Linked DNA regions of Homo sapiens. The protein of the gene in region 3 purifies or fractionates together with the protein of the main gene of each other region. This does not show direct contact. Each region holds a gene or a part of one and is shown on either strand. Other genes may lie near its edges. The genes, in order: LRRC41, FAT1, LIPH, PTER, CEP164, RTEL1 and LRP5.

What was found.
Region 1: the proteins of LIPH (region 3) and LRRC41 purify together in Homo sapiens (affinity purification with mass spectrometry; 3 studies listed by BioGRID and IntAct, with this or other methods). This does not show direct contact.
Region 2: the proteins of LIPH (region 3) and FAT1 purify together in Homo sapiens (affinity purification with mass spectrometry; 2 studies listed by BioGRID and IntAct, with this or other methods). This does not show direct contact.
Region 4: the proteins of LIPH (region 3) and PTER purify together in Homo sapiens (affinity purification with mass spectrometry; 3 studies listed by BioGRID and IntAct, with this or other methods). This does not show direct contact.
Region 5: the proteins of LIPH (region 3) and CEP164 purify together in Homo sapiens (affinity purification with mass spectrometry; 3 studies listed by BioGRID and IntAct, with this or other methods). This does not show direct contact.
Region 6: the proteins of LIPH (region 3) and RTEL1 purify together in Homo sapiens (affinity purification with mass spectrometry; 3 studies listed by BioGRID and IntAct, with this or other methods). This does not show direct contact.
Region 7: the proteins of LIPH (region 3) and LRP5 purify together in Homo sapiens (affinity purification with mass spectrometry; 3 studies listed by BioGRID and IntAct, with this or other methods). This does not show direct contact.

Annotation. Positions count from the first base shown.
Region 1 is NC_000001.11:46,282,810-46,286,923, forward strand, and holds part of LRRC41 (leucine-rich repeat-containing protein 41), read right to left. Parts: intron 3,691-4,114; coding exon 2,553-3,690; intron 1-2,552. UniProt on the Homo sapiens protein: Probable substrate recognition component of an ECS (Elongin BC-CUL2/5-SOCS-box protein) E3 ubiquitin ligase complex which mediates the ubiquitination and subsequent proteasomal degradation of target proteins.
Region 2 is NC_000004.12:186,706,682-186,710,795, forward strand, and holds part of FAT1 (protocadherin Fat 1 isoform 1 precursor), read right to left. Parts: intron 3,165-4,114; 5' UTR 3,147-3,164; coding exon 1-3,146.
Region 3 is NC_000003.12:185,545,849-185,549,962, forward strand, and holds part of LIPH (lipase member H isoform 1 precursor), read right to left. Parts: intron 1-4,114.
Region 4 is NC_000010.11:16,502,761-16,506,874, forward strand, and holds part of PTER (N-acetyltaurine hydrolase), read left to right. Parts: intron 1-2,259; coding exon 2,260-2,400; intron 2,401-4,114. UniProt on the Homo sapiens protein: N-acetyltaurine hydrolase that regulates feeding by catalyzing the hydrolysis of N-acetyltaurine into taurine and acetate. N-acetyltaurine has anorexigenic and anti-obesity effects that are dependent on GFRAL receptor and GDF15.
Region 5 is NC_000011.10:117,330,614-117,334,727, reverse strand, and holds part of CEP164 (centrosomal protein of 164 kDa), read right to left. Parts: intron 95-4,114; exon of another isoform or gene 1-94. UniProt on the Homo sapiens protein: Plays a role in microtubule organization and/or maintenance for the formation of primary cilia (PC), a microtubule-based structure that protrudes from the surface of epithelial cells. Plays a critical role in G2/M checkpoint and nuclear divisions.
Region 6 is NC_000020.11:63,685,227-63,689,340, reverse strand, and holds part of RTEL1 (regulator of telomere elongation helicase 1), read right to left. Parts: intron 3,819-4,114; coding exon 3,744-3,818; intron 3,551-3,743; coding exon 3,469-3,550; intron 1,704-3,468; coding exon 1,571-1,703; intron 1,405-1,570; coding exon 1,291-1,404; intron 1,203-1,290; coding exon 1,162-1,202; intron 1,041-1,161; coding exon 955-1,040; intron 814-954; coding exon 736-813; intron 287-735; coding exon 209-286; intron 1-208. UniProt on the Homo sapiens protein: A probable ATP-dependent DNA helicase implicated in telomere-length regulation, DNA repair and the maintenance of genomic stability. Acts as an anti-recombinase to counteract toxic recombination and limit crossover during meiosis.
Region 7 is NC_000011.10:68,420,355-68,424,468, reverse strand, and holds part of LRP5 (low-density lipoprotein receptor-related protein 5 isoform 1 precursor), read right to left. Parts: intron 981-4,114; coding exon 772-980; intron 1-771. UniProt on the Homo sapiens protein: Acts as a coreceptor with members of the frizzled family of seven-transmembrane spanning receptors to transduce signal by Wnt proteins.

The DNA.
Region 1 (4,114 bases), on a different chromosome or scaffold from region 3:
ATCACCTGAGGTCGGGAGCCCAAGACCAGCCTGGCCAACATAGTGAAACCCCGTCTCTACTAAAAATACAAAAATTAGCTGGGCATGGTGGCATGTGCCTGTAATCCCAGCTACTGAGTCAGTAGAATTGCTTGGACCCGAGAGGCGGAGGTTGCAGTAAGCCAAGATTGCACCATTGCACTCCAGCCTGGGTGACAACAGAGACTCCCTGTCAAAAAAAAAAAAAAAAAAGATACAACTATAGAGATAACCAGGAGTAAGAATATGAATGACCACTAAGTAAAATTAAGCCATTGAAGGGTGTTTGCATAAATGAATGACAGGGTCATTTTTGACTGATTTTTTTAAAGAATCAAGACTGCATTTTTCAAAGGATGCTTGGGCTGCAGTGCAGATAATGGATTTGTATGGCAAGAGTAAGGAGTCCGGAGGAACTACTGAAATTAGTTCAGGTAGTGGGTAATGGTAGCTTGAATTAAGGATGTGGAGATAGAGAAATAAATGTATTTAACAAATTGTAAAGATAGGGCTGGGCTTAATGGCTCATGACTATAATCTCAGCACTGTAGGAGGCCGAGGTTGGTGGATCACTTGAGGCCAAGAGTTCGAGACCAGCCCGGCCTATATGGGGAAACCCTGTCCTTACTAAAAATATAAAAATGCATTCAAGTTGGATGTAATGAGTTGGGTGGGGTATTGTGGGTTATGAAGTTGTCATGTCTACTAGCTGGATAAATGGGTCTGGAAGTTCAAGAGAAAGATCTGGGGTAATGTCACATAATGGGGAGTCTTTAGCATAGTTGGCCTTTGAAACCACAGGAATGGATGAAATTGTCCAAGAAGCGTGCATAAAGTGGGAAAGCTCTGAGGAACTCTGAATAAACAGAGGAGGAGAAAACTTTTTTTTTTTTTTTGAGATGGAGTCTCACTCTGTTGCCCAGGTTAAAGTGCAGTAGTGCAGTGGCACGATCTCCAGTCACTGAGTAGCTGGGATTACAGGCGCCCACCATCACGCCTGGCTAATTTTTGTATTTTTAGTAGAGATGGGGTTTCACCATCTTGGCCAGGCTGGTCTTGAACTCCTGACCTCGTGATCCACCCACCTTGACCTCCCAAAGTGCTGGGATTACGGGCGTGAGCCACTGCGCCCGGCCAAGAAAACATTTTTTAAGGTAGTGAAAAAAAATTTAATGAACAGCAGTAAATCCTGCCAAGAAGAGTTACTGAAAAGTATACATTGGATCTAGTAACAAGGAGGACCCTGATGACATAGGTCCTTGCCAGTGCAGTGGTAGGGGTATAAGAGGCTGGAAGGGGCTGTGAGTAAGAGAAGTGGAAACAGTACAGATAACTAAGGTTGTGAAGAACAGGAGATAACAGTTTATTAATATGGCATAGAGGGAGGTGGTGGTGGCAGTTTTTGATGGAGACCTGTTAAAATGCTGATAGGAGAGAGACGGTGGAAAGGAGAGTAGCATAGTTGTTTGAAAGCATGAATCTGCAGTCTGGTTGCCTGGGTTTTGAATCCTAGCTCTATAATTGCTAGGTTATCCTGAGGAAGTCACTTGCCCTCATAGGGTTGTGAGGATTGTTAGATCAAATTATCAAGAATACTTAAAATATGCCAGACACATACTAAGCAGTATATAAAAATTAGTTTGAGAAACAAGCTTCCCTAAGAAGGTAGAATGCTTGTTTCTCAAACTGGTAATTTTTATATACTTTGTTGTGAAGCTCTATGCATCTAGAGCACAGGTGGGAGAATTAGCCTTAGAAAGGATGGTGGTCTCTTCTATTCTGGTAAAGAAGGATGAGTGCAGATGGAGAGTTTATAGGCTGCTTAGCAAGCTAAAGAAACTCATGTGTGATGGCTTCTATTTTCTCTGTGAAGTAGGTGAGGTCATCCCTGAGAAGGGAAAAGGAGAGTTTGGAAGTGGTAGGAATGGGAGCTGATGTTGCAAGCACAGTGAAGGTTCATACGAGGTTAGTGATCATATAGTAACACTGATTTGCATAGTTGTATGATTTGTCTCTAGCAGTGCTCAGCAACCTAGGCGGATTGCTGGATTTAGCCAGAGTTGAGGTTTTGCTAGCTGGTCACAAGCAGGAGGGAAATGAGGACTGAGGACTGCTTTGCAGGTTGTTGGTCTGATAAGAAATTGTGTCCCACACCTTGTCTGGACAGCTACTCTGATATGACTGGTGAGGTGGTGAGGTCAAACTCTAGCCCTGCCTGAGCATGCATATACTATACTGCTCCCACCTGCCCTTGGACTGCCTTCCATATCTAAAATGTATTCATTCTTCAGATTCCAGCTGGCTTGTCTCACTGCCCCTCAGGAACCCCTGCTTTCAACAACTAATCAAGTGTATAGACTTTATGTTCCTCTCTTCTAGCAATGACAGTCTCCCCTGCTATGAGGCATACAAGCCTTCCTCTCTAACCTCCTGATCATACCCCCAATTTGCCCCTCCCACCTCCCTAGAATTAGGCACACAGCTGGTGCTGCTAGGCAATCTAAGCCCAATCCCTGCCACTCCAGGGTGCTCACCATTGTAGGAGAGTGTGAGGCTCTCCAGTGACACCCAGGAGCTCAGCAGGTGGCATAGTGTCAGGGCTGCCTCTGTGGAGAGTGGAACTGTGAATAGCTCCAAGGTGGAGATGCTGCGGAATCTTTGTGAAGCTTCCAGTGCTGGAAGCCCCAGGCAGCTGGGATCTGATCCATCCAAAGCTCCACAAGCCACTTCCCCAATCTCCATCTCTTCGCCATCCTCCTTCTCGCCAGCCACAATAAAAACGAAGTCATACAGGTCTTCAGACTCTGCACCAGGCCCCTGACGGGTGCGAGCACCCTTCTTCCCTGCAGCTCGCTTGAAACGCTTTAGGGGCTTAGGCTGTGGGGCTGAGCTAGCTGGTGCCCGTTTGTATGAGGATGTAGAAGAAGAGGCAGAGGAGGTGGCTGCTGGAGCAGAAGGTGACCGCTTGGTGCCAGGAGCCTCATGGGAGGTGGCTGGGGGGTGCAGCTCCCTCTTAAGGTCTGTTCCGCCTGCTGTCAGGCTCTCCTGTGTGCTCCGGCGTGTTACCCGAGTGGCAGGTGCAGCTCTGGGCATCTGCTTGGCTTCACTCTTACGCCGGCTGGCCATCAGGGCTGCAGCACATCGCTCAGCAGCATCCCGGCGGGGCCGACGTGAGCCCAATAAGAGGGACCCTTCATCTCGGGATGGGGCCCGGCCTCGGGAGGCCTCTCCACAGAGGCGGCAGGGTGGGCCACCAGGCCCTGGTTGCCAGAAGCCAGCACTCATGGTGAGAATAAGGATGAAAAGGGCTGACTCAGGCACAGGCCAGGAGTATAGCGACACTTGACTGACAGCCCCATGGTGAATGAGCTGATGCAACAGCTGCCGAAGTGACTGCTGAGCAGCCACATCAGAGAACAGCAGGTGGCGGAACTTGAGAGTGTGCAGGGAGCTGGCCAGGGTCTCCAGAACCCTGCGGTTGGGCTCAGCCACCAGCTCGGTTGCACCCTGCAGCATGTTACAGATGGTGAGCTGTCGGACATGGCGGGAGCTGTGCAGAAGAGGTGAGAACCGCTGATCACAAAGACGCCTGTCAGAAGACACATCAATGGTCCCACGTAGAACATGGGAAAAAAAGGCCTCCATAAACTTGGCTCGCCAACATGTCACACTCTGAAACGCAGAAAACATGCCAGACAGCCATGATATATCCATGAAACTGTCCAAATTTCCCTCTCTTCCAATAGCACACTATTTACTGAGTCAGGCAACACTACAAATTCATTTAATCTTCACATCTCTGAGGTATGTATTATTATTAGCCCTATTTTACAGGTAAAACCGAGGCACAAAGAGGTGGCCACACAGGTAAGTGGTTGGATTATTTGAACCCTGGAAATCTGGTTCCAGAGACCATGCTTTTATTATAGTGTCTCCACTGAAACACTCACCCCTGTAAGTTCTTCCATGTTTGTTTCTAGAACCTTATCCCAATTTTTTTTTTCTTTTTAAGATAGAGTCTCACTTTGTAGCCTAGGCTGGAGTGCAGTGGTGTGATCTCAGCTCACTGCAACCTCTGCCTCCCAGGTTCAAGTGA
Region 2 (4,114 bases), on a different chromosome or scaffold from region 3:
ACAGGTGCATCTTCTTTCACTGTCCCCTTTTCCACAAAGCTGGAAAACACGGGTGGGTGCAGGTTCTCATTCACATCAACCACCTCAACTTCAACATAGCAAGTAGAAGACAGAGAAACTGGCTTTCCCTTGTCTTTGGCCCTCACAGTGAGATTATACACTTGCTTCTTCTCAAAGTCCAACTGCTGGACGATCCTAACTGCTCCACTGAGTTTATCCACATCGAAGTTTCCTTCTCCGTGGTCCAGAAGGCTGTATCTCACCTGACCAGACTGACCTAAATCAGGATCGTGGGCTTCTAACCACATGATGACGGTTCCTTCTGGAAGATCCTCTCGGACTTTCACACGATAATTAGGTGGAATAAATGTAGGTGGGTTGTCATTAACATCTTCTAGTGATACTTTCACAACGACAGTGGAGAACAGCTGAGGCTCTTCTCTGGCTTGGTCCCTGGCCTCAATCTTTAAGGAGTGCTCATGCTGCAGCTCTCGATCCAGAGGGCGTGCGATGTTAACAACACCCGTCACGCTGTCAATTGAAAATGTGTCTGTGTCTGTAACAATTGAGTACGTCACGTGTCCGTTGGGCCCCAGGTCTTTATCTGTGGCTTCAACCTGGATGATTTCACTATGTACCTCCTTGTCTTCACTCACTTCCACAAAATAGCTCTCCTGTAAAAACTCGGGTGGATTATCATTGGCATCGACAACCACGACATGTAGAAGACGCCACGCAGCCTTCTGGGGTATCCCAAGGTCATAGACGGTAATATTCAGGGTGTATTTGTCTGTTGTTTCACGGTCAAGAGGAGATAAAATTTTCAGCATTCCTGTTTCCATATCAATCATGAAGCAACTATCCTCATTTCCTCCAGAAACAGCATAGACCAGTTTTCCATTGAAGCCAGTGTCAAGGTCAGTGGAGTTCATGAAAATTACACTGGAACCCACAGGCTGGTTTTCCTTTACCTGAATACCAGTCGGAAGAGTGCTTCTAAACTGCGGTATGTGAGCATTGACAGAGTGAGAATCGAAGAAAATATCCTCCACCTCTCCCTGGTTGTGTAATTTATTTGCCTGCAGGAGCTTCTCTGCCAGCATTTTGGCAACACCAGTCTCTTCACACTGCAAGTTTACCAGCTTGTGACTGGCAGCCACTGTTATGTTGATATATAATGGTGTGGCAAAATTTTCTCCATCTGTAGCTGTGATTCTCAGACTGTGGAAAGACACCTTTGCACCTAAGCCATCCATTAGCGATCGCTTTAATGACAATACCCCCGAGTTGGGGTTTAAACTAAAGAAATCCAGTTCATTTCCAGCTTCAATCTGATACTGTACCAACTGAAGTTCATCTGCATCAATAGCAGAAACAGTGGTTATTTGCTCTCCCACGCCTAGATCTCTGGGAATTGTCCCTTCACAATTTATTTTCTCAAACAAAGGTGTGTTGTCATTCAAGTTATTGAGAGTAATTGTAGCAAGGACTTCGACTTCCCGGCGGTACGGCAAGCCCCAGTCTGATGCACGAATCCTCAGAGTATAAACCCGAGGCATCAGTTCGTAGTCCAGGTTTTCTGACGTACTCACGGCACCAGTGAAATGGTCAATCGCAAACGGCACATGATTTAAATTTGCGATACTGTATGTCACGTACCCGTTCTCACCCTCATCAGGGTCTACGGCACTCAGGCTCATGACAGTAGTACCAATGGGCACGTTCTCATCAAAAGCAGCTTTGTACGCTGTCTGGGTAAATTCAGGGGGATTGCTATTTGCACCTAAGACTTTCACCAAGACCTTGGTGGACGCTTTTCTGTCACTTGTTGTTACTTCAAGTTCAAAATGGGCTGCCTGCTGTCTTTTAACTGGTTCTAAAATAGAAATGAGACCAGTGTTGTAATTTAAACTGAATTTAGCTTTTCCAGGTGTACTTTTAAAAACATACCTCAAATGGGAATAAGCAGGAATGGCCTTTACCATGACCACAGGTGTGTTGGGAGGAGCAAATTCACTTATTTCTGCTCTGTAAACATCCTTTTCAAACTTGACTGGCCCGGCTTTGAACTGTGGAGAAGTCACGTGAATGACTTTAACAGAAGAGAACTGGGGCGGAGTTCCTTTATCTTTAGCCTGTAGTGTGAGATTGTAGCCGAAAGGATGACTGTCCCAATCAATGCCACCGATGGCTTTGACTTTATACTCCTTACTCCCTGGAAAGGACCTCACTGTTCTAAACTGCTGGAGAAGGTCACCTGCCACGATGCTTAAAGATGCTATGTCACCATTGGCACCCTGATCGCAGTCATCCACTGTCACAATTGCATATGCTGGGTCCCTGTCCAGTTCTGATGGTGACAATGTCACTGCTGTTATCACCGGAGCACATTCATTGGCCTGTTCGATGTGCACCGTTAGCTTGGCCATGCTGCTGATGCCACTGCTCCCATACAACTTCATGCCACGGTCCGCAGCGAGGATTTCCATCTCATAGAGCTTGGTCTCTAGGTAATCAAGTCTACCAGTTAACACTATCACACCACTGGTTGGGTGAATAGCAAACATATCTGTTCGATCTTTAAAACTGTAGTAAAATTCCCCGTTGGTTCCTATGTCTGCATCCGTGGCGCTGACTCTTGCGATACTGGTCCTTATAGCTGTGTTTTCAGGTAAAGAAACGCTGTATGAGGTGGGTGAGAATAACGGTCTCAAGTCATTTGTATCCAGCACCTGCACCCTGACCTTTGTTCGCGCCTCCACATTAGTATTTTTTTCAAGTGCTTTCACTATCAATGTGTAGTGATCCTTCACTTCTCTATTAAGAATAGCTGTATTTCCTCCTTTGGTCCTTATTCTTAGAAAGCAAAAGTCTCCGAGAATGTACTCTTCAGCTTTGAACAGGTTTTCACTGTCTCCGGAAACAATTTTGTACCTTACTTCCCACGCTGGATGTGTAATGTAAACACCCATCTTGACAGGATGCCCCACATAAGTCTTAGCTGCAGAGTTCTCCTGCACGGTGACGTTGTACTCGAGGTGTGTAAACTGCAGAGGAGTCTGTTCAAGTCGTTGGCTGCCATCACTGTCTCCAAAATGTTGGAAGAGAAGGAGCAGAAGCAGGAGCAAAGCCAAATGTCTCCCCATTGCTTAACTGTCGGGAATCTGAAACAGAAGAAATCAGAATCGTTACCTTGGGGAAATAAAACAAGCAAAAGTGTGTACATTGTTTTAAACTTCTCATTAAAAAAATATTTTCCATACACATGGAATATAAATAAATGCAACGGTTTGGGATGTTTTTCATGTTTTCCAATATAAGTATCAACATTCTTGTAACATGTCTAGAATTATTAAGCTTAACAAAAACTTCCTTTTCATTTTTGAACGACAAGGTCCTCTCTTTCATATTTAAACGACTCAAAAATCTTCATGAGTATCAAATGAAAGGCTACTAACTGTAACAACTAAGTTATATTTTTATATTTAAATCGTTAAGGCAAATATAAGCAACTGTTAAAAATTAATGAACATTGTTTACATTTACTTACATACAATGAATTAAATGATCAAAAGCTGGCAAACATAATGCCCCTACAGTATTGTGAGAATGCAAAGCTTCTGACAACTAATTCAGAAAAAAACAAAAACCAGCAGTGGTTTTACATGGCGCTCCATAAGAACAGCTTGTAATCTCATTTCAAAATGTATCCTGAAATTATATTATTTCTGTATAAGAATGGTTAAGTTCACTCCCTACATAATGTAAGGGTTTATTGTCTCATTTCGCTCTATGTAACTACTTAAAAGTATTAAAATAATTATATCAAGTATAATACTTATCAGCAACATAAGCCCCAAAGAAAGGCAATTTACAAAAGAAAAACCAGAATTCAGCAGCCTGATGTCAAACAGCATTTTTCCTCTCTAAGTCAGTGAAGCAAACTTTACCAACTATATCAATGTTTTATCACCACTGCTGTCAACAACCAGTTGTTCACAGAATGTCTCCTATCTTCAGGGCATCGAACAACCTGTCACCCTGGGCCCCTCCATGAGAAGATGACACACACACACAAAAGCTAAATCTTCTAAGCTAACACACGTCAAGGGTC
Region 3 (4,114 bases):
TTGCATCTGTAAAATAATCATAATAGGCCAGGCACAGTGGCTTACGCCTGTAATCCCAGCACTTTGGGAGGCTGACGCAGGCAGATCACCTGAGGTCAGGAGTTTGAGACCAGCCTGGCCTACATGGTGAAACCCCATCTCTACTAAAAATACAAAAAAAAAAAAAAATTAGCTGGGTGTGGTGGCACATGCCTGTAATCCCAGCTACTTGGGAGGCTGAGGCAGGAGGATTTCTTGAACCCAGGAGGCAGAGTTTGCAGTGAGTCGAGACCCAGCCACTGCACTCCAGGCTGGGTGACAGAGTGAGACTCTGTCTCAAAAATAAATAAATAAAAATAAATAAAAATACAAAAATTAGCCGGGTGTGGTAGCGCACACCTGTAATCCCAGCTACTCGGGAGGCTGAGGCAGGAGAATCGCTCGAACCCAGCAGGTGGCAGTTGTGGTGGGCCAGGATTGTGCCACTGCACTCTTAGCCTGGACGACAGAGTAAGACTCCGTCTCAAAAAAAAAAAAAAAAAAAATTCTAAAGCTGGGCATGGTGGTGCAGGCCTATATAGTCCCAGCTACTTGGGAGGCTGAGGCAGGAAAACCACTTGAGTCCAGGGTTCAAAGCCTGCCTGGGCAATATGGCAACACCCATCTCTTTAAAAAAAAAAAAAATTTCCCACTGGGTGCTGTGGCTCACGCCTGTAATCCCAACACTTTTGGAGGCCAAGGTAGGAGGATCACTTGAGCCCAAGAGTTCGAGACCCGCCTGGAACAATAAGGTGAGACCCTGTCTCTAGAAAAAATCAAAAAGTTAGCTGGGCGTGGTTGCACATGCTGGTGGTCCCAGCTACACTGAGCCTGTGGCAGAAGGTGGCTTGCACCCAGGAAATCAAGGCTGCAGTGAGCTGTGAGCTGCGATCACACTACTGCACTCCAGCCTGGGCAACAGAGTAAGAACTTGTCTAAAAACAAACAAAAAACAAAACAAAAAAAGCCTGTGCTGTCTCAGCTACACACTCAGCTCTGGCTTCTTCTACCTCATTTTGGAGGAATTAATTTTATTTCCCATATTTCTGACTGGAGAAAACCCTCTTCAAAGAGAGGAGACTCCTCATTCATATCCAAAGAGGCATCTGTGAAAAAAGAAGACAGAATTATGGACAGAGGCGAGGAAATTCTGAGATTCTACGATAGTCAATAAGCAAAGGTGGGAATTGTTTGAACCCGGGAGGCGGAGGTTGCAGTGAGCCGAGATCACACCACTGCACTCCAGCCTGGGTGACAGAAAGACTCCGTCTCAAAAAAAAAAAAAAGAAGGTATCTCAGACCCATCTCAGACCTTGATGAAGGTGCCTTGGACCCTTTGGTCCACTGACCTCCAAACCTACATTACAGAAGTGAAATTCTGTAGGACATGTAGAAGTGAAATTCATGTAGGACATGACAGAATTTCATGTCAATTTCACGTCCTACATGAAATTAACCTTGACGTGTAGTGCCCAGTCAGGAAGTAAAACAGCCCTGACTCATACTGCTTTTTTATCTCGAGTTTTGGTTTCTAAGGTGTGCTTGAGCTTTCTTCCCCTCCACCCCATCCCCAAACGTGACATAGATGTATATTAATAACTTCTTTAGAACAGAGGTCCACAGTCAGGTTTACTGACTTGATGCTGCCTGAAAGTATTTACTGAAGGCAGGGCACGGTGGCTCACGCCTGTAATCCCAGAACTTTGGGAGGCTGAGGAGGGTGGATTGCCTGAGTTCAGGAGTTTGAGACCAGCCTGGCCAGCCTGGCCAACATGGCGAAACCCCGTCTCTACTAAAAATACAAAAAATTAGCCGGGCATGGTGGCAGGCACCTGTAATCCCCAGTTACTTGGGAGGCTGAGGCAGGAGAATTGCTTGAATCTGGGAGGCAGAGGTTGCAATGAGCCGAGATCGCGCCACTGCACTCCAGCCTGGGCAACAAGAGCAAAACTCCATCTCCAAAAAAAAAAAAAAGAAGAAGAAAGAAAGAAAGTATTTACTGAGACCCAGATAAAGATTAACAGATACATTTTCAAGTATTCTGCATGCTTGGCAATGGATGTTACTGTCTGGGATACAAGCTCATTACACGTTGATGCCGTTGATGCCAAAATGTTCACAGTAACCTATGCTTGAGCACACTCTTATGCTTGCCTGAAGACACTGTTCTGAAGGAATTTCCAAAAGTCCAAGAAATAAAAATCTGAAGTTTTTTTAGGCCAGAAACTTTGCCTTCCTCGTATTAGAAAATGAGTTGGGGCCGGGCGCAGTGGCTCAAGCCTGTAATCCCAGCATGTTGGGAGGCCGAGGCGGGCGAATCACCAGGTCAAGAGATCGAGACCATCCTGGCCAACCTGGTGAAACCCTGTCTCTACTAAAAATACAAAAATTAGCTGGGCGTGGTGGTGGGCACCGGTAGTCCCAGCTACTTGGGAGGCTGAGGCAGGAGAATTGCTAGAACCAGGGAGGCGGAGGTTGCAATGAGCCAAGATCGCGCCACTGCACTCCAGCCTGGTGACAGAGCGAGACTCTGTCTCACATAAAAGGAAAAAAAAAACAACAAAAAAAAACTCATCCTAGGTCAAGCACGGTGGCTCACACCTGTAATCCTAGCACTTTGGGAGGCCGAGGTAGGTGGATCACCTGAGGTCAGGAGTTCGAGACCAGCCTGGCCAATATGGTGAAACCCCATCTCCACTAAAAATACAAAATTAGCTGGGTGTGGTGGCACATGCCTTTAGTCCCAGCTACTTGGGAGGCTGAGGCAGGAGAATCACTTGAACCTGGGAGGCAGAGGCTACAGTGAGCCAAGATCGTGCCACTGCACTCTAGCCTGGGCGAGACAGAGCAAGACTCCATCTCAGAAACAAAACAAAACAAAAACAAAACAAAACAAAACAAAACAAAACAAAACAAACCGCATCCTGAGCCAGGCTGTGAAAGGATTACAGTTGGACAGGGTCAAACCTGGTGAAGCATTTGTTTTGCCAGGCATGGTGGCTCACACCCGTAATCACAGCACTTTGGGAGGCCGAGGCAGGGGGATCACGAGGTCAAGAGTTCAAGACCAGCCTGGCCAAGATGGCGAAACTCCGTCTCTCCTAAAAATACAAAAATTAGCTGGGCGTGGTGGTGGGTGCCTGTAATCCCAGCTACTTGGGAGGCTGAGGCAGAGAATTGCTTGAACCCGGGAGGCAGAGGTTGCAGTGAGCCGAGATCGCACCACTGCAGTCCAGCCTGGCAACAGAGCGAGACTCCATCTCAAAAAAAAAAAAAAAGAAAATATTTGTTTCTTTTTTACCCTGGGCGGAGACAGGCAAGAAGCATATGGGCAGGATGCCCTCTTGATTGGAAGGACATGCCTGCTTTTAACCACTGGCTGTGTTTCTTTAGGATGCAACCGAGAAAATAAATGAGATGCCAGATTTTCTCATTCTCATTTCTGAATCATGTGCATAAATATGCACATTCACACCCCCTCATTCACCTTTGCCAACTTGTTAGAGAAAGATGAGTCACCACACAGGCACAGTTCCAAATCATTCTAGAGGATTGCAAATATCTGAGGAAATAATTCTGGTTTTGGCATTAAACAATTTTTTCTGGGAAAATATCTATCTAGTTTTACAGTTGCTATGGGCCAAAATATCGATAGCAGAGTAACTTTTAAAAATACTTATGTCAAGCAGTCTTAATTTAGAACAATATTTTAAAACCTATGTTTGTTTCACCACCTGCAGCTGAAAAACCCTGAGGAATTGTTAAAAATGCAGATTCTAGGCCAGGCACAATGGTATGTGCCTGTAAGTTCCAGATACAGACAGGGCGGGAAAATTTTTGAGACAGGGTCTTGTTCAGCCAGGCTGAAGTGCAGTGGCTACTCAGAGGCACAGTCATAGCTCACTGCAGCCTCCAACTCCTGGGCTCAAGCGATCCTCCCACCTCGGCCTCCCCAAGTGCTGGGACTACAGATGTGAGCCCCTAGGACCAACCAAAAAAATTTTTTAAGATGTAGATTCCAGGATCTCACTCCCAGATCTACTAAGTTTGGATTTTTGGAGGTGGAGTCTGCATTTTAATCAAGCCCTCAGGGGAT
Region 4 (4,114 bases), on a different chromosome or scaffold from region 3:
GGTGGATCACCTGAGGTCAGGAGTTCAAGACCAGCCTGGCCAACATGGCAAAACCCCGTCTTTACTAAAAATACAACAATTAGCCGGGAGCAGTGGCACACACCTGTAGTCCCAGCTACTCGGGAGGCTGAAGCAAGAGAATCACTTGAACCCGAGAGGTGGAGGTTGCATTGAGCCGAGATCACGCCACTGCACTCCAGCCTGGGCGACAGAGGGAGACTCTGTCTCAAAAAAAAAAAAAAAAAAAAAATCTCTGAAAATACTTCTGACCTCTTAGAAGTAGATTCATGGACACATGATAGTGCTTTTTTTTTTTTTTTTTTTTTTTTTTTGTATTTTTAGTAGAGATGGGTTTTCACCATGTTGGCCAGGCTGGTCTCAAACTCCTAGCCTCAAATGATCCACCCACCTTGTCCTCTCAAAGTGCTAGGATTACAGACGTGAGCCACCACACCCAGCCACATATTAGTGCTTTTTGTTTTTTGAGATGGAGTCTTGCTCTGTCACCCAGGCTGGAATGCAATGGCACGATCTCAGCTCACTGCAACCTCCACTTCCTGGTTTCAAGTGATTCTCATGCCTCAGCCTCCCGAGTAGCTGGGATTACAGGTGCCTGCCACCACCCCCAGCTAATTTTTGTTTTGTTTTTGTTTTTGTCTTTTGAGACAGAGTCTCACTCTGTTGCCCAGGCTGGAGTGCAATAGTGTGATCTCAGCTCACTGCAACCTCCGTCTCCCAGGTTCAAGCAATTCTCTTGCCTCAGCCTCCCAAGTAGCTGGGATTACAGGCACCCACCACTATGCCCAGCTAATTTTTCGTATTTTTAGTAGAGATGGGGTTTCGCCATGTTGGCCAAGCTGGTCTTGAACTCCTGACCTCAGGTGATCCACCCACCTCAGCCTCCCAAAGTGCTGGGATTACAGGTGTGAGCCACCACACCCAGCCATTTTTGTATTTTTAGTAGAGACGTGGTTTCACTATGTTGGCTAGACTGGTCTGGAACACCTGACCTCAAGTGATTCACCCACCTCGGCCTCACAAACTGCTGGGATTGAGCCACCGCACCCTGCCACAAAGTAGTGCTTTAATCCTCACATCGTGGAGTTGCCAAAGTAATAGAAATATCAGCATGGATAAAAAGCCAATAAGACAATGACTGTCTAATGTTCCCAACTCATCTCCACGCCAATTTCCGATCCGAAACGATCCCTTACATTTCTCTAGGTCCTTCATTCCTTTCATGCAATGTCTAATGGGGTATATTTTTCCTTCATTCCCTTCATGCAATGTCTTCCTTCCCTTCATGAAATGTCTAATGGGGTATATTTTTCCTTCACTTTTTTTTTCCCATATTGTTTTCTGCTAGGATGTTTTTATTCCTTCTTAGCTCTCTGTGTGATTGGATCTCTACAGTGGTATTTTGGGGTTACCTTAGTGCATCTCTTTTTACTTGTTATAATGCAAATTTCTTGATATAATCTACTCTTGCTCTGTACTCTACGCTTGTCTGTAGCCTGTACTTGTCTTACATTTCTCTCCTTTCCCTTTCATTTACATAATCTTACATCCTAAAATAGTTACATTCTTTATATGACATCTATTGAAATGAGAAGATATCCATAAAATTTATCATAAAATAATAAATTTTATTTAAAAAATAAGCACTCCAGAGCATAAATATCTGTATGAGTATTGTGCCTTCAAGAAAATGTGGGAATGATATTCTTTAAAGGCTTTAGAATTAATTTTAGAACCACTTTACAATCTTCACAAGAAAATCACCCTGCTACCACAAGGCAAAGCCTCATGTGTTACCCAGATTAGCATTACTCACCTAATTCACCAGACCTGAGGCCAGATTTCCTTTAATAGTTTTCACAGTTCATAGCAGTCTTTAGAGGATGAAAATTTACCCCATTAAGGATTCTCAAAATAGTGTGGGGGCATCTTCTGAACACAGTTCTGAGGGAGAATTCCAAACTTGCTCTGGAATAATGGAAGCATCATTAAACTAAGTCTGTAGTACCCAAGTACTTTAGAGGGGAAAACTCCTTTTTAGATGAGTAAGTTCTGTTATTTCTAGTAACAAATTGAACTTACTGTTTTATACTCACATCATTAAGAGCCATTTCAGAAGTGTCTGTTACTCGACTTCAACTATGTTCTTGTTCTTGTACATTGTGTGCTTAAAACTTCTAGTATGTACATGTGGAAAATGGGCTCTTCATAATAACAGTTCATCTGTCGCATTGTTTCTAGGACTATTCTTGATAAGAAAGAGCTCTTGGAGTTTGCTCAACTTGGCTGCTACTTGGAATATGATCTCTTTGGTACTGAACTACTTCATTACCAACTCGGCCCAGATATTGACATGCCTGATGATAACAAAAGAATTAGAAGGTAAATATGGTAAAGCCTCTCATAGCATTCCCTTTCCCTAGCCCTTTTTGATTGTCATATCTAGGGAAGTATTAGCAAAGATTCAGAAAACAGTAAGCAGGCCGAACCACAGACTTGCAGAGAAAAATATATCTATGCTGTTTCAGGGAGAAAAATCTCTCTATATTATTTTAAGGAGAAAATGAGTCATCCTAAGTAGGCTAAAGCTTAGCAGAGCCTTAGAAGTTCAGTGCAGATGGGCAGCTGACAGGAAACACAGATAATACCCAACCCCTGCCATGAAAATCAGAGAACAAAAGACATTTTCCTCTATTTACCCCTAATGAAATAAGCTGTTCCTCTCTCAGGTTGACCACACTAAAGCCATAACTTCCTACAAGTAATATTTGAAATGCTTTATCAAAAGTTTTCATTAAAAAGGTGATTTCAAGTTAAATGCTAAAAGTATAAGGTCTAAAGACTAAATATTATGTAAAATGAATGCAACCTTCCAAAACTGTATAATGTGTGATGCTGGCAGATAATTGTAGGAGTCATTCTTTGTAATCAAGTAGAAAATTTTAGGCGTCAATGATAGCTACCTAGTTTGGTCTTGGTCACATGGTGATAAGAAGATTGAATGAACCAAGTTAGAATACCTAGGAGGAGAAATAAATTGGAGATTGACAAGGAAGGCTTTCGTTTGGGAATATCTAAGTGTTGCTACCCAGTGAAGCCCTAAGATATGGTTTGTATGTGATAGTTGAACCGTGGGAATGAATGACATCACTCAGAGAAGAAGATGAGGACAGAGACCTGGGGACAGAGACATTTAAGGAATGGAGTAGGAACCGTTTCTCAAGGAAAGGTCGAGGAGAAGTTTTCAAAGTGATAACATGAGAGATATATATTCTTATGGAAGTCAGTAGAGAGGAAGTCTCAGGGCAGAAGGGCTTGAATGCCGGTAATAAGTGACAAATATCAAGGGAAATAAAGACTGAAAAGCATCCATTGGATTTCACAATTAGGAGGCTCACATTTTATAAACAGAGTGCAATCTCAGTGGAAAAGGCTTGAGAAATGGGTGGGCCGTGAGGAAGAGGAGAGAGGATGTTGAGGTGACTCTTTCAAGAAGCGTGGCAGTGGAGGGAAGCAAGGAGATGGGTCTGGAGTTACAAGTCAATAAAGGATCAAGGGAAGCTTCTAGTAAGAGTTGAGCAATGTTTATGTGACTTAAGAGCAAAAGCAGAGACAGAGCCAGAGAGAATGAGTCCAGGGAAGTGGTGCCCATTCCACAGGGTTACTATAGAATTGACATGAAATAATGTTTTCCAAGTTTTTGTCTGAGTGTCTGGTGCAGAATATGGAAGTGTTCAATAGATGTTGACTTTAAAAACTCTGGATAGATAAGAAATATAGAGCAAGGTTCCTAAGGCAACAAATAGATGGAATCTGGGGAACAAATAGAAAGTCGGTTGAAAGGATGCTTTCTCCATGGAAATGAGAGGGCATGACACAGCGATGGGGTGAATGCAAACAGAAGTCTTAGTGAGGGAAACAGGAGACTGAGGACACATGGCCACATGTCCTCTAGTGTCTCTGTGAGGTGGACATGGTTATCTCCTGAGAAAAAAAGAGTGGATTTAGGGCAGCACTGTGTAGAGCAGGAGAAAGGCTAGGAATGGCTGTCAGGTCAATGAGAGAGATCTTGACATGGATGTGTTATGTGCGAGAC
Region 5 (4,114 bases), on a different chromosome or scaffold from region 3:
CTGCAACCTCTGTCTCCCAGGTTCAAGCTAGTCTCTTGCCTCAGCTGCCCGAGTAGCTGGGATTACAGGCACCCCCACCATGCCTGGCTAATCTCTGGATTTTTAGTAGAGATTAGATTTCACCACATTGGCCAGGCTGGTCTCAAACTCCTGATCTCAGGTGATCCACCGGCCCTGGCCTCCCAAAGTGCTGGAATTACAGGCAGGAGCCACCGCACCTGGCGATATATTTAACTACTTAAAGATCAGGAAAACTCTGGGAAATCTGAATTCATGGATCATCCAAATTCAAATAAATGTTCTGCCAGAAAAAAATTAAAATATGGGTGGGTTGTATTCTACCTTCTTTCCTTACCTTATCAGGCTCTAGAAAAGATGTGGGCAAGGACAGGTCCAAAAGGCCAATGAGTTAAAGAAAAAAGGAACGTGGGAACAGAAGTCATATCTATTTGTCTGTATGTAGTAGCAGGATGGCTACTAAAGATCATCTACTCACTCGAGGAATATTTATTGGGCACCTACCACGTGCATTTATTTCTAGGCGCTAGAGATGCAATCGTGATTAAAAACAGATTCAGCTGCTGCTACTCTTGAGCTCGTCTGGGAAGGGAGGGAGACAAACCAATCAGTCACAGAGAAATGTATAATTAGAACCGAGGGAAGTGCTCTGAAGGAAATAAGCCTGATTTAGATGATGCCTACACTGAGAACTGAATGATGAGTAGGTATTCACTAGACAAAGAAAAAAAGGAAAGCGTGTTCTAACAGATGCATGCAAAAGTCCTTCAGCAGAAGGCAACACGAGGCAAGAAGCAGCACAGTTGGATAGGATGCTGGGGAGGCCAGTGGGAGCCAGGCCATGCAGACTTGCCCTTTATCATAACAGAACTAGGGCTGGGCACAGTGGCTCACACCTGCAATCTCAGCACTTTGGGAGGCCAAAGCAGGAGGATCGCTTGAGCCCAGGAGTTCAAGACCACCGTGAGCAACATAAGACGACCCTGTCTTACCCTGTACAAAAAAAATTAAAAATTAGCCAGGTATGGTGGTGTATACCTGTAGTCCCAGCTACAGGGGAGACTGAGGCGGGAGGATCACTTGAGCCCAGGTGGTCAAGGCTGCAGTGAGCCTTGATTGTGCCACCACACTCCAGGCTCAGTGACAGAGCAAGACCCTGTCTCAAAAAAGAGAGAGGAATGGAAGCCAGGAAATAGTTTTTCCAGATACACATTTTGAAAAACTACTCCAGAAGCTACTAGGAGTACACCCTAAAGCGGAGGCCAGATTGGAAAGAAGAAAATCAGGGCTGATGCAGAGAAATAAGGTAGAAAACCATGAGCTAGGCTAGGTAAGAGGCAATGGTAACCTGAGTTGGAGTGGTAACAGAGGATGAGAAGTCTAAGAATGCAGCCCTTGGGCCAAGCACTGTGGCTCACACCTGTAATAACAGGGCTTTGGGAGGCTAAAGCAGGAGGATCACTTGAAGCCAGGAGTTTGAGACTAGCTGGGTCAACATAGTGAGACCGTCTCTACAAAAAATTAAAAATATCAGCCATGCATGGTGACACACACCTGTAGTCCCAGCTACTTGGGGGGCTCAGGTGGGAGGATCCCTTGAGCCCAGGAGTTCAAGGCTACAGTGAGCTATGATAACACCACTGCACTCCAGCCTGGGTGACAGGGCAAGACCTGTCTCTAAAATAAATCAATAAATGAGAATGCAGCCCTTAGATCTGCCATGGCAAACAAATAGGACATGTCCTACTATTTTCCTCCAGGCCTAAAACTGTGAAGGACATCACTAGTCAATTATGGCACCCTAGACATGGCCTCAGAACCCTCAACATTGTTCACTACGTAGCAGTTACCAATAGATGAGATGAAATCCAGTGAGATCTACTTGCTGCCTAGCCTGAGACCTTCTGTGAGCCAGAGTTAGGAGGGGTCACCCAACTGCACTCATGCATCTCCTACCAATCTCAGAATCAGGCAAAAAAGGAGTGGCTCACACGTTTCCTCCAGGAAGCCTTCCCAGCCAATTTTATCCTCTCCTGTCAACCCAGAACCACCTTAGCACTGAGCTCATAATTTTCATGTGTTCCCAGACAGATTTCTCTCAATATTATTATTTTTTCTTTCTTTCTTTTTGAGACAGAGGAGTTTCGCTCTTGTTGCCCAGGCTGGAGTGCAATGGTGCGATCTCGGCTCACTGCAACCTCCGCCTCCTGGGTTCAAGCGATTCTCCTGCCTCAGCCTCCTGAGTAGCTGGGATTACAGGTATGTGCCACCACGCCTGGCTAATTCTGTATTTTTTTAGTGGAGATGCAGTTTCTCCATGTTGGTCAGGCTGGTCTCGACCTCCTATCCTCAGGTGATCCACCCGCCTCGGCCTCCCAAAGTGCTGGGATTACAGGCGTGAGCCACCGTGCCTGGCCAATATTACTTTTTTTATGAAAATGTGTCTTCTTACCTCTCCTGTTAAACCACAAACTTCTGAGGGCCATGTCTCCTCCTCTGGAATTTTCCAACAAAGCCTAAAATAAGCCTATGTAAGCTGTCGGAGCTCAGTTACTGCTGTAACTGCTAATATAAAACCAAGGAATAGGCCGGGTGTTGTGGCTCACACCGGTAATCCCAATACTATGGGGGACCAAGGCCTAGGATCACTTGAGCCTAGAAGCTCAAGACCAGCCTGAGCAATATAGTAAGACCCTGTCTCCACAAATATATATATATATATATATATTAGCCAGGCATGGTGGCGTGCACCTGTGGTCCCAGCTACTCGGAAGGCTGAGGCAGGAGCTATGTGATCAGATGGAAAGGAAGACAGAGTTACATAAAGAGTGTAAAGTGGGGAGGCAGAGGTGGGAGGATCACTTGAGACCAGGAGTTCGAGGCTGCAGTGAGCTATGATTGTACCACCATACTCCAGCCTGGGCAACAGAGTGAGACCCTATCTGAAAAAAAAAAAAAATACACCAGCAATCTCAGAAGCTAGGAAGACCCGCAGTAGTTTTGGTCCACCTTCCTTCCCATGCCAAAATTTTCCTCTCTGTGCTTCCAGTGACAGGCGGCATAGTGGTCAAAGTACCAGCTTTGGAGACAGAAGACCTGGATTCAAATCCCAGCTCTCTCACTTAGCAGCTGTATGACCTTAGGCAAGGTGCTTCACCTCTCTCAGCCTCAATAACTGCATGTGTATAATTAAAACAATCTTAACAAAAATCAAAAAGCCTGAAAGTAAAATGAAACAACACTTATAAAGTGCCTAGCACAGTCCCTGTATACAGAAAAGTTACACAAATTTAGCTAGTATTACAGATTCTATTTTCAATTCCATAGTTAGATAATTCTTAACTATTAGAAGGTCTAATAGTAAGCCAATAATCAGGTTCTAAAAAAATGTTCCCTGGTATCTCAAGTCTGCCTTCTGCTCATCTGGGGACACCCTAGGATTCTCTAGCTAAGGTAGGCTAAGTATTCCCAGTTCTCTTCCATTCAGTACATATCGTTTCCCAGTCCTTCAATATTGTGGCTACCTTGCCCTGTACTTTGTCAGCATAGCTAGAGTTTTGCACATCTGCACACTAACAGAGAATATACACTCACAGACATAATGAGGGTTCTCTGTATATTTATTTCTTCCACCCTGCTCCAACAATTACAAAGAAGGTTGACCACAGAAAAGATTGACTGGAGAAGGTAAAGGGGAGAAGGTGGAAGATGTCAGAGTTGATTACGCAGTGGTAATGAGCAAAAGCTTTGGAACATTCTTGGCTTTCAATCCCAGCTCTGCCTCTTACTAGCTGGACAGCCTCAGTTTTCTCATCTATAAAATGAGAGTACTAACAATATCCATCACAATGTGTTGTGAGGCTTATATGATTCAATACATGTAAAGTGCTTAAAATATACTAAGGTCTCAATAAATGTTAGACATTACATTATTATGACTGCTATTCACCTATTTAAAAGGGTTTATTCTACCTTGCTCCAAAGGACATATCCAGCACCAGGCAATATAAGTTAAGGCCATTCAGACATTAAGTAATCACTTTTTCTTTGCTTTTTTTTTGAGACAGAGTATCATTCTTGTCACCCAGGCTGGGGT
Region 6 (4,114 bases), on a different chromosome or scaffold from region 3:
GCCACCTCCAACTCTTGTGGCCAGGAAACTCCCATCCTGCCTGCCCAGGCCCAGAGCAGGACACGCTCCCAGCAGGGCCAGCAGTCGCTCTCGTGGGACCCAAGGAGGGGACCGGGCAGCCCCCAGGGCCCAGAGTCTGCTGGGGAGCCATAAGCACCCACCAGGGAACAGGCAACCAGGTCAGGGCAGAGGGCCCTGGAGAGCTCACCTTGCCCCGGCAGACCGCCAGGAAGGTGGCGCCGGTGGACCCAGGGGCGGCAACCCTTGCATAGTAAGCACTGATGGTCTGGAAGGAAAGTTGGTGAGGCTGAGCCTGGAGCCCCCCCCCAGCCCCTTCCTCCCCCATGAGGGAGACCCAGGTCTCATGCTCCAAGATGAAGGATCGTCCTAGCCAGGAAGGCCAATCGGGTTCTGGAAGCTTCTTCCTGGCACGGATCCCAGGCTGACCCCACGCCTGCTCAGTGCTTCCCAGAAAACACGGGGAACCCCAGGGCCAGGGTGGCCGACTAGGGCTACTCAGACAGGAGGGCCACTGTTACCACACCCACCCGGTGCTGGGGGCTTTGTAAGATAAGAGGCAACACTCAGGGCCAGGAAGGAAACGCAGGAGCCCTGAAGAGGCAGCGGGAGCCGCCGGAGCCCATGGTCAGGGCCAGTGGTCAGCCTTGGGGAAGCTGTGAGAGGCAGGGGAGGCACGAGGGGGCAGCAGGCCCAGAGCCCCGGCCAAGTGCCGACCTCGGAGAAGCTGCCTTTGCTCCTGGGCTCCACAAACAGCGGCTTCAGCGCCTCCATCTTCCTGGCCAAGTCGCGGGCCTGTGGGAGGAAGAGGCAGGGACACGGCAGCCCTGGTCACGCCGCCGATCCGATGAGGGCAAGCAGGAGCTGTGACCACTGCCTGCTTCATGCTCCAGCCCTGCCCTCACCCACCCCGCCCAGAACACAGGGGAGACGCACCCGCCAGAACTCCAGGCTCTTCTCCATGACAGGATAGGAAGGGAAGAAGATCAGGAGCCCATAGGGCACCACGCGGGCGATGTTGCCTGGAAGTGCAGGGGCCGGGGTCAAGGCAGGGGCAGGATGTCTGCAGGGTTCCCTACCAGCTCTTGGGAGCAGGGGTCCAGGATCCAGGATGGGCACAGCTGGGGCATTCAGGGCACTCACCCAGAGCCTTCCCCAGGGAGGATAAGCACTCCTCGGAAAACCTAGAGCCGGAGAGGCCACTGCTCAGGACCTCAGGCCTCAGTGCTCCCCCACCTCCCACCCCAGCAGGGCCCAGGGACAGGCCCTCACCGTCTGTCAAACGCGGAGCTCAACTGGGCTCCATCGGGGCCTCTGGGGACGACCCCCACCCAGATCTGGTGCTTGTCGATGATGTGTGGGTTCTCCAGGCAGACTGGGAAAGGGCTGAGCGTGGCCAGAGGGAGCAGACAGTGGGGAAGTGCACCAGCACCCCTTTAGCCCTCGAGGCCCGAGACCCCCAGCACCCGGCTCATGGGGACCCCCACCACTTCCACCCCGCTGATGTCAGAGGTGTCACCGGTGCTCAGGCCCTGGCAGGGGTGGCCCGTACATCTGCATCTCCAGAGCAAAGGAGGACACCGGGGCCAGCGTGCCGCTGGTAAGGATGAGGGAGCGGACGCCCTGGCGGACCAGCTCGTGCATGCTGTGGCCGGGACTGAAGCACCAGTAGCTCAGCACCTTCCCTGTGGGGCGGGGGGCGGCAGAGGGCACAGAGTGTGAGGACGGGACTGGGGGCCTGACCACCTGCCTCTCTGCCCATCACCCTCTCCACCCACTGGCATCAAGCAAGCGAGCCGCGGGCAGCCACCCAGGCCCACTGTGCAGAAGTCAGAACAAAGGAGGCTGCCCTGAGTGTGAGCCTGCCAGCTTGGGGCCCCTCTGGGGGACAGGGGGTCCTGGGAGTAGGAGGCAGACCCCAGGCAGAGGCTGGGGACACCTGCAGAGAGGTCAGCCCACTCCAACCCTAAACTTCTGCAGAAACTGTGACATGCGGCTCAGGGCAAGAAGCCCACCCCGCCAAGAGCACACGGGAAGGAAGCGCCGGCATCCCGACATTCCACGGCCGCGTGCAGAAGACGGGGTGCGAGTTCCCAGCTCTGCCTGGAAGCAGGACACGTGCACAAGCCTCTGAGTGGCGTCAGCAGTGAACAAGGGCGCCAGCTCAAAGGAAGTTCCTAGAAGGGCTTGACCGACTGGCCACGGCGGCCGTGGCCTGGGGAGGAGGCTGAGTCTGGATGCCGGATGCCGGGAATTCAACACGGCACAAGCAGAACGACTCTGACTGCGATTCGGAGTCAGCAGGGACGAGGCACGTTTCCTTCCTGGGGCTGAGTGTGCCCTGCAATGGGGGAACTTCCCCACCCCCTCCTCCAGGAGCTCATTTCCTACAAACGCCCAGTGCAGGGAGTGGCTGCTTCTGAGAAGTCAAGTGACATCAGAGGTCAATGGAACAAACAGATTCCAGGCCCTTGGAATCTGTGCACCGGCTGCCTCAGGCACGCACTGCCTCCCGCAACCCCAACTGCGTGAGGGGCGCCGGCCTCCCCCCGGGATGGACGCTTCCTGCTGGGAGAGGCCTTGCTGCAGGACCATCACCGAGCGGGGGTCAAGCCACGCCACCCTGACGCCCTCCCAGCCCTTCCCTTCCGGCTCGGCCAGGCAGACCCAACCACAGCAACCGCACAAGGGCTGCTTCAGCCAGGGCCACGTCATGCCACCATGGGTCGGACAGCAGCTGAGAAAGAATGTTCCAGAGAGGGACGAACCAAGCCCAGAGGCAAGGCCCCACTGGAGCACAAGGCAGGGGCAGCAGCTCCCGCAGCTGCAGCCGTGAAGCCCCACCCTGGACACCACGCAGTGGGGGTGGGGCCAGATACACCCCAAGAACCACAGGGCTCCGGACACGGAGCCGAGGGCACACTCACAGACCCCATCCACACAGCGTCCCCGGCAGCACCGACTCGAAGACGCCACGGAGCACAGGAAGCCAAGAAGGCACGTGGGGCCTCGGGGCTGAGCGCACCAGGGGCTTCGGACAACAGGGCCAGCCGGGCCCCCTTCAGATGTGACCCTGAGGCTTGGCCCGGCCAGGCGCTGCGTGGAGGCAGCAGGCAGAGCCGTGCCTCACTGTGGAGGCTCTGTGCTGACGGCCTCGGCATAAACGAGCGTGTCCCAGCAGGGAGGCCTGGCTGGGCTGTGGCTCTGCCACCACCAACCAGGTGACTCTGGGCAGGTCACGGTGCCATCAGGCCATCTCCTACGTCTCTCAGTAACTCCAATCTTCAGAGGGACAGTGAGGAGAATGCTCTGGATTGGCCTGGATATGGAGAAGGTGGCCAGGCCCATGGGGGCAGGAGATCCACGGCTGGGCATGTGCCTAGCCTGTGGCATGGTGGTGCCGGGCACTGCACCCGGGCGGGCGGGGAGCGTGTGGGCCCAGGTCTGTACCTCGCTTTCTGGCTGCAGTGGTGCTCCAGGCATCAGACCGCTGAGCCGTCCTCCGGTGACCAGCATCAGGATGGATGTGCACCTGGAGGGGACAGGACCAGGAGTGTGGAGGCCCCGCCCATGTCCTGGGGGCAGCCCCTTACCTTTTAGGACCAGAAGACCCCCAGCCCCACCTGCCTCCTGGAGGTGGCCCCCACCTTATAGGACTGTAAGGCCCCCAGCCCTGCCGGGGAACAAGGGCTGCCCTCCACCTGCCTCCTGGAGGTGGCCCCTACCTTATAGGACTGTAAGGCCCCCAGCCCTGCTGGGGAACCAGGGCTGCCCTCGGAGGGGTCCACACTGAACACAATCTGAAAGGCAGAGGAAGTGCAGCCCCGTCAGGAGCCTGAGGCCACCCGACTTTCTGCAGCATCAGCCGCATACACAGAAGGTCACAGGACACCCAGGGGTCATCGGTTCACCGGCCCCTGCCATCATGCAGCCCCAGGCCAATGGACAGGAGCTGGCACCTGCCTGACCCTTTCTCCTCCCTGCAGGGACCCCCGGTGAGCTCTGTGTTCCCCCAACATAGGCCATCTCCATGCACTGAAAATGCGGCAGCCCGAGGGGCCTCTCCTCCCGCCAACTGGCCCAGCCCTCCTCTCTG
Region 7 (4,114 bases), on a different chromosome or scaffold from region 3:
CCCACCGAGCCCCCCGTGTGCTGCAGAGGCCGCACCACTGTGGCCGTCACTCCTACCAATGAGGAAACTGAGTCTCCAAGAGGCTATGCCACCCGCCCAAGGTCACGTGGCCAGTAAGTGACAGAGTCAGGGCTCAATCTCTGGGCTCCCGGCCCAGGACCTGTGCTGGCTGTAGCTCCCGTCTTCATGCCAGCCCCCCAGCTATCTGAGGAAGGCCATCGCGCTCCTGTCCCCAAACGTTCCCGTGCTCAGTTTGGAGCCTGAGTTTCATGTCACATGGGTTTCGGTCTCCCTCTTTCCCTGGCTTTTCTCTCTGGAGACCTCAAGGTCCTGGGTGCCTTCCCACCAACCAGAAGCTCTGACGACCAACAGGTGGGAGCGTCGGGGGCCTCTGGGAGGAAGAAGCCCAGGAGCTCCCTGTGGTGGAACAGGAGCGAGTCAACAGGCAGCCCCCATGCCGTGGAAGGGATTTCTGCACAGGGTTCAAGTTTAACAAGGATGATACAAAACCTATCAACTGCAACTCCCGTCGGCCAGCGCTGCCTTGTAACCTCTCAGCAGAGCTCCCCCTTCCCTTCCAGCCCTTGGGGCTTTCTGCTTTCCTGGAGGGGCTGTGAAAGAGCCTGTGTTTGCTTTTGGGACCCTGGAAAGCCACCCATTGGATCCCCAGGGTGGAAAGTCTCCCCAGCCTGTGAGAGGCTGGCATTCGGCAGAAGACACGGCGGGCACGCCTGGACGGGCAGCACCCCCACCCACCCGTTGGCCTCCTACCCTCGCTCCGCGTTGACGACGATGGCCCTGGGCTTGTCGCGGTCCCCACGCAGCACCACCCCCATGGCTTCCCCGCTCAGCCTGTGGACGTTGATGGTATTGGTGGCCTCGCACGTCCAGAACAGTGTCCGGCTGTAGATGTCGATGCTGAGGTCGTGGGGCTGCCTGTCTGGGTTTTGGCCTTGGCTCAGAGAGGTCAAAACAAAGGGCTGTAAGACAAAGAAACCAAGACTCCTGAGCACTGGCGGAGACCCCTGGGCACTGGCGGAGACCCCTGGCACTGGCGGAGACCCCCGGGCACTGGTGGAGACCCCCGGGCACTGGCTGGAGAGCCCTGGGCACTGGCTGGAGAGCTCTGGCAGGACAGCAGAGGCCACACTTCTCAAGTTTAGCCTGAAAGTCAAATCCCAGTATTGGTGTGGGGGTCTCTCCTCTCCAATCAGCTCCTAACTACGTGCCCGCCTGAGTATGCCAGAGCGATTAGGACAACAGCCTCTGGAAGAGCTCTTGCCGCCTCGGACTTTAGGCCTCCTCAGCCACCCGCCGGGCACCCAGCTGTGCATCACTAGACTGGCGCTCCCATGAAGGCCCCATTGACAGTCGAGAAGGGATCCAAGACCATGGGGCCCTTCCCAACACATCCCTGTCTCCTCCACCTTCCAGGACTCAAGCTTTTGGACTGCGGCCCTCACGTACTGTTTTCTCTGCAGGGCACCAGGACAGACAGTTTGGGGGCCGCCCCTTACAACCCCTTCCCCAACGGAAGGAGGCCAGGTGAGGGGAGGGCAGGTGAGGGTGGGGGTTAGGTGAAGGTGGGGGACAGGTGAGGGTGCAGGGGCGGGTGAGTGGGGGAGGTGAAGGTACAGGGGAGGTGAGGGTGGGTAGGGAAGGTGCGGGTAAAGGGATCGGTACAGATGTGGGGGTAGGTGAGGCTGGGGGCCAGGTGAGGGTGGGTAGGGGCAGGTGAGTGTGGGGAATGACTCAGAGCCCCTCTTGGGAAGGCAGGGCAGCCACGTCTCTCAGTGACTCTCAAGGACTCTCCGTCTCCACACTCTCTGGGGTCACCGTCCAGGAGATGCTCGAGCGCTGCCTAAGCCCAGCCCACCCTGTGCATCTCAGGGATGAGCCTGGGCTTTTGGGGCCTCCGACACAGCATCCCTTCGAAGGGCTCTTACTGAGCTGACGTAGGAGGAGAGGACAGCCCAGAAGCCTACTGCCTGCGGGGATCTGGTTCCTTTGGGTTACCCTGAAAGACAGCTGCATCCAAGTTCCCGAGTGATTTGGCCTGGGGCAAATGGGGCCTGGAGCACCTGGGCTCCTGCCACCCAGGCCTGAAGGAAAAGCTCCCCTCCCTCTCCATTGAGTCAGAGGGAATCATCTTAGGATGGTGCTCTGATAGTAAGTCTTTTCAGACTTTCTTTATCTAGGTCTTTCAGCAGTTAATAAAACAGGGAGACAGCAGTGGCTCACACCTGTGATCCCAGAATGTCGGGAAACTGAGGTGGGAGAATCACTTGAGTTCAGGAGTTTGAGACTAGTCTGGGCAACATAGCAAGACTCCATCTGTATCAAAAAAAATTAAACCAACCAAACAAAAAAAACAATAGCTCAGTATGGTGACGCACGCCTACAGTCCCAGCTATTCAGAAGGCTGAGGTGGGAGGATCGCTTCAGCCTGGGAGGCCGAGGCTGCAGTGAGCTATGCTCATATCACCATACCCCAGCCTGGGTGACAGAGTGAGACCCTGTCTCAAAAAAATACAAATAAAACAAAGTCTCTAAGTAGATAAAAAGAAGCGTCTTCCCCAGGCCCAGTCTCTTGGACCCAGATGGAAAGGGTGCCTCCCCCATACACACACACACACCACACACCACACACACGCGCACACACACACACACACCCCACACACACACACCCCCAGATGGAAAGGGTGCCTCCCTCCCCCATACACACACACACACCACACACACACCACACACACACACACACACACACACACACACACACACAGCCTTGCTGGGCAGCTGCAAAGACATCATCACTTTCATCTGGACACGAAGGATCATGTGTCTTTGTAGATAACAACATCCACATCACTACAGAGCTGTGGACCCTAGGGGGCCATGTGTCAAAGCCAACTGAACAAATTCCTTCCTAAAAGCCACTAGCTGTGGACCCTGGACTGGTACAGCTGCCGGGCTGAAAGACAAGCAAGATTCCAGCTACCCTGGCCAAAATCAGGCTCACCGTGGAGGGTGGGTCTGTGGGAACCAGATGCAAAAACAGACTTTGGGACAGCAGTCTGGAGAACCACCATCTGAGAAACGTGTACTGTGTGACGTGACACCCTGGCCACACTCCTCCCGGGCACAAAAACAACACAGCAAACTTTACGCGGCTGGCCAGTTTCATAAACCCTGAACTCTTTTTTTTTTTGAGACGGAGTCTTGCGTGAGACAGAGTTTTGCGTGAGACGGAGTCTTGCTCTGTTGCCCAGGCTCGAGTGCAGTGAAGCGATCTCGGCTCACCGCAAGCTCCGCCTCCCGGGTTCACGCCATTCTCCTGCCTCAGCCTCCCAAGTAGCTGGGACTACAGGTGCCCGCCACCACACCTGGCTAGTTTTTTGGTATTTTTAGTAGAGACGGGGTTTCACCATGTTGGCCAGGATGGTCTTGATCTCCTGACCTCATGATCCGCCCGCCCTGGCCTCCCAAAGTGCTGGGATTACAGGCGTGAGCCACCGCGCCCGGCCCCTGAGCTTTCATTTTAATGTAGTACAAATACTTATGGTTAGTGCAAACTTTCTTACCAGAATCCTATGCAACACCACAAACACGCCTTTTCCTCACTAGTACAAAACCTTCACCACGGAAGGAAATGTTCATAGTGGCCTTATTCACGACAACCAAAGGTGGAAGAAACCTAGCACCCGTGGATGGATAAATAACAAGAAGTGGTCCGTCCATCCATCCGATGATTTTTTTTTTTTTTGAGACAGGAAGTCTCACTCTGTTACCCAGGCTGGACTGCAGAGGCACAATCTTGGTTCACTGCAACCTCTGCCTCCCGGGTACAAGCGATTCTCCTGCCTCAGCCTCCTGAGTAACTGGGATTACAGGTGCGCGCCACCACACCCAGCTAATTTTGTACTTTTAGTAGAGCCAGGGTTTCACTATGTTGGCCAGGCTGGTCTCAAACTCCTGACCTCAAGTGATCTGCCCACCTCGGACTCCCAAAATGCTGGGATTAGAGGGTGTGAGCCACCGCGCCCAGCCTTTACAACGGGTTATTATTCAGGCTTTAAGGAAGGAAATTCTGACACAGGCTATAACACAGATGAAC